Linked DNA regions of Homo sapiens: region 1 is linked to region 2. The links come from fine-mapping of genetic effects on gene expression. A gene starts in region 2. The other region holds a variant in brackets. All regions are shown on one strand. Distances are from middle to middle. Region 1 overlaps GPAT4 (glycerol-3-phosphate acyltransferase 4). Region 2 holds the start of GPAT4 (glycerol-3-phosphate acyltransferase 4).

Region 1 (5,368 bases), 45 kb after region 2:
GTGAAGATGAATGTTAGAGTAGAAAGAATTGTAAACTCCTTGGTAGGTTTAAGCAGTTATCAAGTACCTTGAATGTGAGTAGTAAATTCTCACCCAAGGGCAAGGGTAGACCTTTTGAGATAGAAAGGGTGGATATTGGGATCCCGGAGCCCCAAATCCCCTGAGGTTGTCTTGGTGAGAGTGCCACGGGGTACCCTGTTTCTGGCAGGTTTTTCTTGGTGTTTGGGCAGCATGGTGCATCTCCCATGGTGTGAGCGTGGCTGGGAGCCCTCTTGGCTGTTACTACATCCAGCCTTTGTCTCTCCAGGGATGGGGGCCTGAAGAGGGAGAAGGTGAAGGACACGTTCAAGGAGGAGCAGCAGAAGCTGTACAGCAAGATGATCGTGGGGAACCACAAGGACAGGAGCCGCTCCTGAGCCTGCCTCCAGCTGGCTGGGGCCACCGTGCGGGGTGCCAACGGGCTCAGAGCTGGAGTTGCCGCCGCCGCCCCCACTGCTGTGTCCTTTCCAGACTCCAGGGCTCCCCGGGCTGCTCTGGATCCCAGGACTCCGGCTTTCGCCGAGCCGCAGCGGGATCCCTGTGCACCCGGCGCAGCCTACCCTTGGTGGTCTAAACGGATGCTGCTGGGTGTTGCGACCCAGGACGAGATGCCTTGTTTCTTTTACAATAAGTCGTTGGAGGAATGCCATTAAAGTGAACTCCCCACCTTTGCACGCTGTGCGGGCTGAGTGGTTGGGGAGATGTGGCCATGGTCTTGTGCTAGAGATGGCGGTACAAGAGTCTGTTATGCAAGCCCGTGTGCCAGGGATGTGCTGGGGGCGGCCACCCGCTCTCCAGGAAAGGCACAGCTGAGGCACTGTGGCTGGCTTCGGCCTCAACATCGCCCCCAGCCTTGGAGCTCTGCAGACATGATAGGAAGGAAACTGTCATCTGCAGGGGCTTTCAGCAAAATGAAGGGTTAGATTTTTATGCTGCTGCTGATGGGGTTACTAAAGGGAGGGGAAGAGGCCAGGTGGGCCGCTGACTGGGCCATGGGGAGAACGTGTGTTCGTACTCCAGGCTAACCCTGAACTCCCCATGTGATGCGCGCTTTGTTGAATGTGTGTCTCGGTTTCCCCATCTGTAATATGAGTCGGGGGGAATGGTGGTGATTCCTACCTCACAGGGCTGTTGTGGGGATTAAAGTGCTGCGGGTGAGTGAAGGACACATCACGTTCAGTGTTTCAAGTACAGGCCCACAAAACGGGGCACGGCAGGCCTGAGCTCAGAGCTGCTGCACTGGGCTTTGGATTTGTTCTTGTGAGTAAATAAAACTGGCTGGTGAATGAACTGGGGGACTTCTCCCTTTACTTTCTCCCCTGGCTGTGGCCCTGAGTAGCAGGCTTCTCGTGAGGATTCCCGTTCTCTTCTGGGAGCATGGCCCTGGGGCTGCGGAGAAGCCAACTGACTGCTGGAGCGAGGAACCCTGCAGCTCAGAAGGTGAACAGCTCGTCTCAGATGCTTGCAGATCTTTGGTTAATTTAGAATTTCCAGCACAGACGTGGATTTCTCCAGAGACGGGGTGTGTGCGGGTCGCTGATGTGAGGCCTAGGGGAAGCAATGAGTAAACTCCAGGGTGGGGGAGGAGCAAGGGCCCGGGGAGGGCTGCAGAGGGGCCGGGGCGGGGCAGGGCCTGTGCTGCATGGTGGCTTCTGCAGGGGAGGGACAGGGGAGGGCTGCAGAGGGGCAGGGTGGGCAGGGCATGTGCTGCATGGCAGCTTCTGCACAGCCAGAGCAGGCACCACAGGAAAAGAGTCGGCCACTGGTGCCTGCTGTACAGTCACAGTGGAGGCAGAGCCAAGGCCAAGCAGCCCCTGTGGGTTCTGGGGTTTCACCAGTTTCATGCTCCTCAGCTCCCCATTCATGCCCCACCAGCCCTCACTTGGGACCCATGCTCCCTCGTGGCACAGTCATGATGCCTCTCAGGATTTTGTGCCTGTGGTGCTGAGTGTCACGTCCCCAAGGTCGCCCTCTGGCCTGCAGTTCAGGGAGTGGGTGGGAGTGAAGCTGTGCTCCTGGGGCTGCAGACAGATCCACTTTGCATGTGGTACCTGCTGGGTTGGCCCTGCAATCTCCTTTTCTCTGCACCTACCTGTGACCTCCCTGGGAGAGCCTCCCATTTCCTCACCTGCCCTGTTGCCAGCCCGGGGGAAATCTTTTTGCTCTCAAATGAAGACTGAAAAAATAAAGTCAGTGTTATGACTAATAAGTCTCTTAGGAACTGTTTTACAAAATGCTTAAGAATAAAAAGTGATTTTCAGCTTTTATAGGTGATGTTTACAGTGTTTGTAAACCAACTGGAGGGATCAGTAATTGGTCTTAAAAGATCAGGTTCTCTTTTAAAAAGTTCATCTGAAACTTTATG[G/A]TTTGTTACTTTCGTGATTTGCATAGGTATTTATATATACACACACACACAGGTTTTGCTTTTGTCTCACATTCAGCACAGCTGTCTGCGGCCCCTGCCGGCAGGTGTGGCCGCACCTGGTGTGAAGTCACGTGGAGTCAGTGCTGTGGAGGGAAGTCCTGTGCGGGCCGGGCAGTGAGGAGAGCACTGATTCACGCCTGCAGAAACGTAACCTCCCCTTTCCGTGTATGCCTTTTACCATCATCCAGGCGACTGCTCCATCCTTTTAAATTAGGGGTCCTGCAAGCCCCAAGTGACCCATAGTCAGAGTATCTGGTTTGGGGTAACCGAGTTGGTCTTATGGGGCAAAAACTCAAGACACTTAGAAACATGCAAAGTACAAAATAATGTGTTCCCTCCTGTTACCCCAGCAAGGGTGGGGCTGAGCTGGGAATGACACCCAGTGGTGTAATGAGTGGAAAGTGCTGGTCAGCTGCTAACCCCCCTCCAAGCCTGCTGCACCTTCACTTCTCTGCATCCGTCTCCTGAGTCATAACTAGGGACTTGGCTAGATGACCTCAGAGACCTCGTCCACCTCTGAATTCTCTGTTTTTAAGCCCATAGTTCAAACTTTGGCTTTGATCTCTGAAGTCTTCTGGGTTTGGAAATACGGGAAGTCAGCTTTGAATCCATTGCTTCTCTAAAACATCAGGGCTAGTGGAACTAACCCACTTGAGGGTGACCTCAAGGGCTTTAGGCAGCCATGGGGCTGGGGCCATACTGCTCTCAGGCTGGGCAGTATCTTCATTGTGGTTCTCAGACAGCCTTTTTTACTCAAACATGAGACTTTCCACCCACCAGTTAGGGAACTTTTTTTTTTTTTTTAAACACGGAGTTTCACTCTTGTTGCCCATGCTGGAGTGCAATGGCACAATCTCAGCTCCACTGCAACCTCTACCTCCCGGGTTCAAGTGATTCTTCTGCCTCAGCCTCCAAGTAGCTGAGATTACAGGCATGCACCACCACACCCAGCTAATTTTTTGTATTTAGTAGAGACTGGGTTTCACCATGTTGGTCAGGCTGGTCTCCAACTCCTGACCTCAGGTGATCCACTCTCCTTGGCCTCCCAAAGTTCTGGGATTACAGGCGTGAGCCACTGCGCCCAGCCAAGAGGGAACTTTTTAATAAAGCTAGTGGGATTCCCTTGACAGCAGAACCAGCCTTGGGACTTGATGCTTCACCGTGTCAGAATCCGTCCCTGGTGCTGCCTTTCAGAGAAGAGGCTTGATGTGTGAGGGGTCAGGGGGAGTGCTCCAGATCCCTGAAATGCCCTTCCCAGACCAGTGACAGGCATTTTTGGGTGCCATCGTGTGACCTTCACGGCACAGCAAACAGTGGGCACTAACCCTGTTGTCCTGTGGAAATCTGGGTCTCTGAATCCTGCCATTTCCTTCCTGGAATTGGCCAGGAACTTGATTTTCTGGGCTATTGCTTGCTAGTGTCCCCTGATGCATGAAGGATCCCCCCATGTCATAGGTCCCACCTGCCTGCTGTGCATCCCGGGTGGCCAGACTCGGCTTCTCCAGGTGCACTTGTCCCAGGTGGCCCGGTCCGTAGGCTGGAAGGGCAGCTGCAGGTGCACTGCCTCGCGGACAGGTTAGGATATGGCCACGCAGCCATCCATCTTCTACAGCACGCACACCCCACTCTCTCCCCCAGTCAATATGTCTCTCTCCGATGGGAAAGTTAATAAATTTTGCTCTAGATTAAAAGTATTGATCATTTCATTTGTAAACGATAAATAAAAAGGGGGAACTTTTCATTGCGCCAGGGGTGGCACCTGGCGTGTGTTGCGGGGGTGATTGCGCTGGCTGCCGGGGGGTGGGCTTCTCATATGCATTCTGGCCGGCCAGCTGCATTGATTTCCTATTAGTCTCCCAGCACCACCCAGTAACACATCATTTCAGTACCTGCTATTAATGGTCTTTTGATAAATAATCACTTGTAAGTCAATAAATTTTTATTAAACAGTGTGGCTCTTTGATTTATTAAAATCCGACCGTGTTTGTCTGGGAGAAAAGGGATGCCGAATTGAAGTGGAGGTTTTCATACATCTTCCTGACGCGGAGCAGTCACCACACACTCCAGAGAAAAACAATTGCATTTTAACAGAAACAAAACGGCCGAGTTTGGAACTTGGGCCCAGGCAAACTTTATCTCCGTCAGCCTGAGGCTTACTCTGCAGGGATCAGCTGCAGGCTGGAGGGCGCCGAGTTGAGAACTTTGTGTTGGCCTCCAAGAGTGCCCAGGTGCCAGGGCTGGATGCCTCTGCTGGGCTGCGTTCTGAGATGGCACGTACCGGCCCTCTCCCAGCTGGGGATGCACCCTGGGGCAGGCACCCTTTGTCAGCAGACATCTGTCATCAACAAGAGAAGCTCGTGTGGCAGGACCCTTTAGCTTCCTTCCTGGCCAAATCGCCACCAGAGTCACCTGTGGCAGGAAGATGTGGCAGGAGACAGTCTTTTGCAGCAATCGGGCTGTGTGGATTATTTCTTACAGTGTGGGCCAATAGCTGAAGACTGGAAATGCCTTTTTGTGAGATTTTCATTGGCATAGAGTTTGCTGTAAAGAGTTTGGCACTTTATCGAGACAAATATGGCCCCAAACAGATGGTCTTACATAGATCAACCCAACCACTGACGATACAACCAGAATTCTTACCCAGGGGAAGTTGTAGGAAAGGGAAAACACTTTTTTTTTTATTGATCATTCTTGGGTGTTTCTTGCAGAGGGGGATTTGGCAGGGTCATAGGACAATAGTGGAGGGAAGGTCAGCAGATAAACAAGTGAACGAAGGTCTCTGGTTTTCCTAGGCAGAGGACCCTGCGGCCTTCCGCAGTGTTTGTGTCCCTGGGTACTTGAGATTAGGGAGTGGTGATGACTCTTAATGAGCATGCTGCCTTCGAGCATCTGTTTAACAAAGCA
Region 2 (5,368 bases):
TTCTAAAGGACTACCCTTCATCAGGTTTTAAAAATTACTCCTATAATTTCTGCAGTATGAGTTTTTTCATTCTAGAATGTGAAAATACTGCCAACAATAATCTAAAGACAGCCCATATTCACAGCGACAAGAAGTTCAGTGTTGGCTATAGCTCGGTCATGCTATGGGCAGGAGGCCTTCTCTAAAGATAAGTCTGCTTTGTGTCAAGCATTTCAAGCATGACTTGCTTGTTTCATCTGCCCATTTACATTCCTTGTACCTAGAAATGAATGTGATAAAAGTTTTGGTGCCTACAGGAACTATATTTACCTAGTTCATGTTGGCTTCCCACTCAGAGGGAAGTTTGATTGCCTTCCTGCACTTGAGAAGTTTAGAGAATGTGCCAGTGAATGTGCACACTCACAAGGTGTGTGTGTGTATCAGTGTTAATACCCAACAATTGAGCCTACTATTTGCTTGGGCAAAGAACACCATTTTCTCTTGAGCCTCTAATATGTGTGAAATATTTTAAGATTTCAATATTATGTACAAAGAACTAGTAGATGGTAAGAATTGTGAGAAAATATAACCATGAGAACACAAAGAGAGTACAGCAGATGAGTGGGCTACTTCCAAGACTGGTTCTGGGGGCAGAAAAGGAGACCAGACGAAGGACTCCAAAGAGCAGTTGAGATCCTGGTGGCCACTTTAAATCCCTATCCCTAGCACTGTGGAGAACACAACACAAAAATGTATGATGTCTGGTTTCTTCTTCTTTTTTTTTTTTTTTTCTGAGATGGAGTCTCCCTCTGTCGCCCAGGCTGGAGTGTAGTGGTGCGATCTCAACTCACTGCAACCTCCGCCTCCTGGGTTCAAGCAAGTCTCCTGCCTCAGCCTCCCGAATAGCTGGGATTACAGGTGCGCACCACCACGCCCGGCTAATTTTTGTATTTTTAGTAGAGACGGAGAGACGGGGTTTCACCATGTTGGTCAGGCTGGTCTCGAATGCCTGACCTCGTGATTCCCCCGCCTCAGCCTCCCAAAGTGCTGGGATTACAGGGGTGAGCCACCGCGCCCGGTGGTTTCTTCTCTTATGGAATTTAATGTCGTTGACGATTAGACGTGGCCATGCATTACTCAATCTTGAATTGGGATCCCCAAAAAAGCTGGGCGAGTAACAAGGGCTCAATGAATGGATAAGTGATTGAGTTAATAAATACGTGATCAGTTCCAAATGGGTAACATTTAGTTATATTTGGTGGAGATAAGTAGTCCAGTGTTTTGGAGCTAAGTGGTTATTCTTTTTTTTTTTTTTTTTTTTGAGTTTGGGTCTCGCTCTGTCACACAGGCTGGAGTATAGTGCCACAATCTCAGTTCACTGCAACATCTGCCTCCTGGGTTCATGCAATTCTCCTGTCTCAGCCTCCCGAGTAGCTGGGATTACAGGTGCGTGCCATCACCCCCGGCTAAATTTTGTATTTTTAGTAGAGACGGGGTTTCACCATGTTGGCCAGGCTGGTCTCAAACTCCTGGCCTTAAGTGATCTGTCCGCCTCTGCCTCCCAAAGTGCTGGGATTACAGGCGTGAGCTACCCGCGCCCCGCTCCCCCCACCATTTTTTTTTAATTTTCAAAATTTTTGTAGAAGTGGGGGTCTCGTTACGTTGCCCCGGCTAGTCTCAAACTCCTGGCCTCAAGCGATCCTCCTGCTTTGGCCTCCCAAAACGCTGGGATTACTGGCGTGAACTACCATACTCTGCCCTTTATTCTTACAGAGATTTTGAGGTCTAAGAATGTGGACTTTAAAGATTTCATTATCAGATTATGCATTTAGCACGGAATGACAATCTGACAGCCGTGTACAGCGTAAACCGGCGGAGAGGGCTTGGCACTAAAGGCAAACTGTCTTTTAAGAACAGGAAAAAGAAAGGTAATATATATTTTAAGGAGGTCCCATTTTAGGGGAGATAATAAGCTTGGGTTAGGCGTCCGAAGTCAGAAGATATAGTAAGAAACACACACGCAAACTCCAGCAGCCACCAGCTAGACTTGAGTAGAGAGAGCAGGTCCAAGTGGAGGTGGAAGTTGGAAAGTTGCATCTGCCAGGCAGGGCGAAAGTGGCCTACACCCACTCCTGGAGCACCCTGCTTGACGAGCAAGGTAGACGAGGCTGAGGGATACTGCTGGTGATGACGGTGGTCGTGGTGATGGTGCTGGTAGCTAACAGATCTTGAGCGTACCAGGCCCTGAGCTGAGTCCTCTAACGGGCAGAATGTCGCTGCATACGGACAGCAGCCTCAAGAGGACAAGGTGATTTAGTGACTCTAGCCTCTTCCCGCGGTGCCAGCCTGATTTCACCCTCTCCGGAACACACAAGCGAACCTCCGGGGAGGGAGCCAGTATCGGGTCCTAACGCAGGGAAGCGCTCCGCTTTCTGAGAGGGACGCGCCAGCGGAGGGACAGCCAGGGCCCGGCCTCTCCTGCTCCTGCCCCGCCCCGCCCCCGGCAGTGCCCCCTAGTCCGCCAGAGGGCGACTCCGCGGGTCGCCCAACCCGCGACCGGTCCACGCGGCACCCGCCTCTCCCTAGGCCCCCGCCCTGCCGGCCCGCGCGCGCCCGACGGGAGCGTGCGGGGCGGTGGGCGCAGGGTCACGTTGGGCGGCGCAGACAAAGGCGGGCGCGCGCACGTCCTGACGCAGCTTGGGCCCGCGGCGGCGGCAAGGGCGGGAGGGAGCGGTCGCCGCGGGATTTGGAGCTGCCTAGCCTCGCGGTCGGTGAGTAGGAGGGAGCTGGCCCCTTACCTCAAAGTCTCCGACCTCCGGGGAGCCGAGAGCGGGACGTGGGAGCCGGGCTTGGGCGGCCGCGCGGGGCCTGCGGTCTGGGACGCCCCGGCGACGCTGCGCCGGCGTCAGGAGGCACCATCGCCGCGCCCCGGGGATCCCCGGCGGGTGGAGCGGGTGCCCCCCGTCCGGGATGGAACGGTCCGCGCCCGCCCCGAACCCCGGCCGCCCGCCTCTCCGCTCGCCTGCTCTCCGAGCCCGGCTCCTCGGAGCCCCTCGCCTCCCCCAAGTCCCAGGTGTGCGCAGCCCTCCCGCCCCGGGAGTCCGGGGATGTGGGTGGCGAGGGCTGCTGGGCGTTGGAGCACCAGGAAGCGCCTTCCCCTGTCATTCCCCTTCCTGTGTTCTCTGGCTGCCGTAAGATGCATGTCTTTACCCTCTCCTTCTCCAAATGCATGCTCCCATTTTTCTTTAGGATTTCTTAACTCCTGAAATCCCTTGCCTTTCCTTTTTTATTTCAGCACCCTCTGAGGCATCCTTCTCCCAGTGGGGCTTGTTTATTTCCTCGCTTTCCATGTCACAGAGGGCTGAAGTTTAGCTGTTCAGAAGTTGCAGAAAATAGCTTATAGGAGACATACGGTGTAGCACGATGGAAATAAGTTCCATCCTCTGCCAAGTATTACCATGGATCTTCTCATGGATAACCTTGAGGTCATTTGAGGAATTTTGTTTTTGGTTCATTTTCCTTAATTTTGGCTGAACTTTGAGGAGCTCTCCTTAGTTTCATGTCTTGTAGATTCTATCTCAATCCAAGGGAAATGGTGTGAAGAGCAGTTATACCATACCAAAGTCTCCAGACAAAATCCTGTAATAATGCCAATCAAATATACTTCTCTCTTTGAAAGAGATGTGCTTTTCTTTTCTTTTTTAACTTTGTATTTTGGAGAATTTCAGACACAGGGAAATAGATGGAATAGGGAACCAGCATGTACTTGTTCTGGCCTCCTCAGCCACTTAACTGTGGCTATTCCTGTGCCATACACACCCCACCCATTTCCCCTCCCGTATGTCTCAGGGAGAACTTGATGCAAGATGAGTCTGTCAAAAGTAGCTTCAGTTCCATAATGAAAACCACCATACCAAGTCATAAGGTGCTTTTTGTTTTGGAACACAGCCTACTCATGAGGTCTTCAGCTAAGAAACACAGTAGAGTTGAAGAAAGAGCACAGCAAAAGGTATCTTAACATGATAGAACAGGTTAAAAGAAAAAGTATGGCCGGGCGTGGTGACTCACGCCGGTAATCCCAGCACTTTGGGAGGCCGAGGCGGGCGGATCACCTAAAGTCAGGAGTTCAAGACCAGCCTGGCCAACATGGTGAAACCCTGCATATACTAAAAATACAAAAATTAGCCGGACGTGGTGGCAAGTACTTGTATTCCCAGCTACTCGGGAGGCTGAGGCCGGAGAATCGCTTGAACCCAGGAGGCAGAGGTTGCAGTGAGCCAAGATTGCGCCGCTGCACTCCAGCCTGGGCGACAGAGCGAGACTCGTGTCAAAAAAAAAAAGAAAAGAAAAAAAGTGTTTCAGATCTGGATGAGAACATTCGGAACGTCCTGTTCAATGTTTTCATTTTTTTCTGAGCCCTTGGAGGTCCAGAGAAGTTCAGTGACTTGTCCAGAGCTGCAGGTCTTAAGAGGCTGAAATCTCGCCTCTGCCTCGAGGCTGCGGTTCCACTGACCCATACTACTTGCCTTCAGGAAAGAGAAATGGTGTAGGAAGGCTGTGGATGAAGACGCTTACATTCATGAAGGATTTGGATAGGCGAACATGAGCTTTTCCACCAAATTTCAGAATTTTAAGAAATGCCTTAAATTATTTCTTAAAAATCAATTTGGGGCAGACGAGAAGTTCTGATAATAGTTTTTAGGGAACATGATAAAATTCTGACCTTAGAAGTGGTATACCAGTTTGAGAAGAAGAACAAGCTATAAACGGTGTAGATAACATTCACGGCTATTTAAGAAAGAGTTACTAAGGGAAACCAGAATGACTTAAGAGTGTTACTCTTCTTTTTCTGAGAGAACAATAGCATCATCTCAGAAAGCCTTTCATGCCATTAATAGGTAAGAATCTGGGCTTCTTGGACCATGGGTTAGACTTTCTTACAAAACCATAATATGCATTTCCTAGCAAAATTTATGCTATTACATTTCCTTATCTCAACAAAGACTGGTAAATTCAGTACTTATTCCTCAATTTTCCTACCCTTAAAATGGGGATATTCTGCCTCTCCAAGGAATGCTGGGAACAAGCAAGTCCTCATGTTAGGGGTCTTTGAGTTTTCATGGAAGTTTAGGTTATTTATATGATGACATAGTTGTCAACTTACTTTCAGGATGGACTTTTCTTTTGTGAGTTTGTGACCTAAATACAATAGTTGTTATGCATGTCCAGTTTATGGAAGTACCACTGCAATAACAGCATTTGAGTGTCATGGTAAATCATTACCCCTAAAGATAGAGGAGGGAGGAGGAGGCAACTGTTGTGTGTCTATTTTGTGTTTGGTGTGAGGAGTGTTGTGGCTAGGCTCTTCAGAGGCTAGCCTAACTTGCTA

What was found. PIP is the estimated chance that this variant, and not a neighbour inherited with it, causes the effect. A credible set is the group of variants that fine-mapping cannot tell apart.
Region 1: its variant is the best candidate, but not a certain one, in a credible set for the expression of GPAT4 in whole blood (INTERVAL, PIP 0.73).

The regions. Positions count from the first base shown.
Region 1 is chr8:41,620,586-41,625,953 of GRCh38, forward strand. It overlaps GPAT4 (glycerol-3-phosphate acyltransferase 4), which reads left to right. Exons shown (of 13, transcript NM_178819.4): 13 at 308-4,416. The coding sequence ends at 416. Among named protein-coding and RNA genes, the nearest start is that of NKX6-3, 28 kb to the right of the region's middle. RefSeq lists an enhancer at 2,416-2,515. The variant G/A (reference allele first, on the strand shown) is at 2,405.
Region 2 is chr8:41,575,529-41,580,896 of GRCh38, forward strand. GPAT4 (glycerol-3-phosphate acyltransferase 4) reads left to right here and starts at 2,672. Exons shown (of 13, transcript NM_178819.4): 1 at 2,672-2,750. GPAT4-AS1 (GPAT4 and GINS4 antisense RNA 1) reads right to left here and starts at 2,840. Exons shown (of 3, transcript NR_125824.1): 1 at 2,778-2,840. RefSeq lists silencers at 2,399-3,018, 3,039-3,178.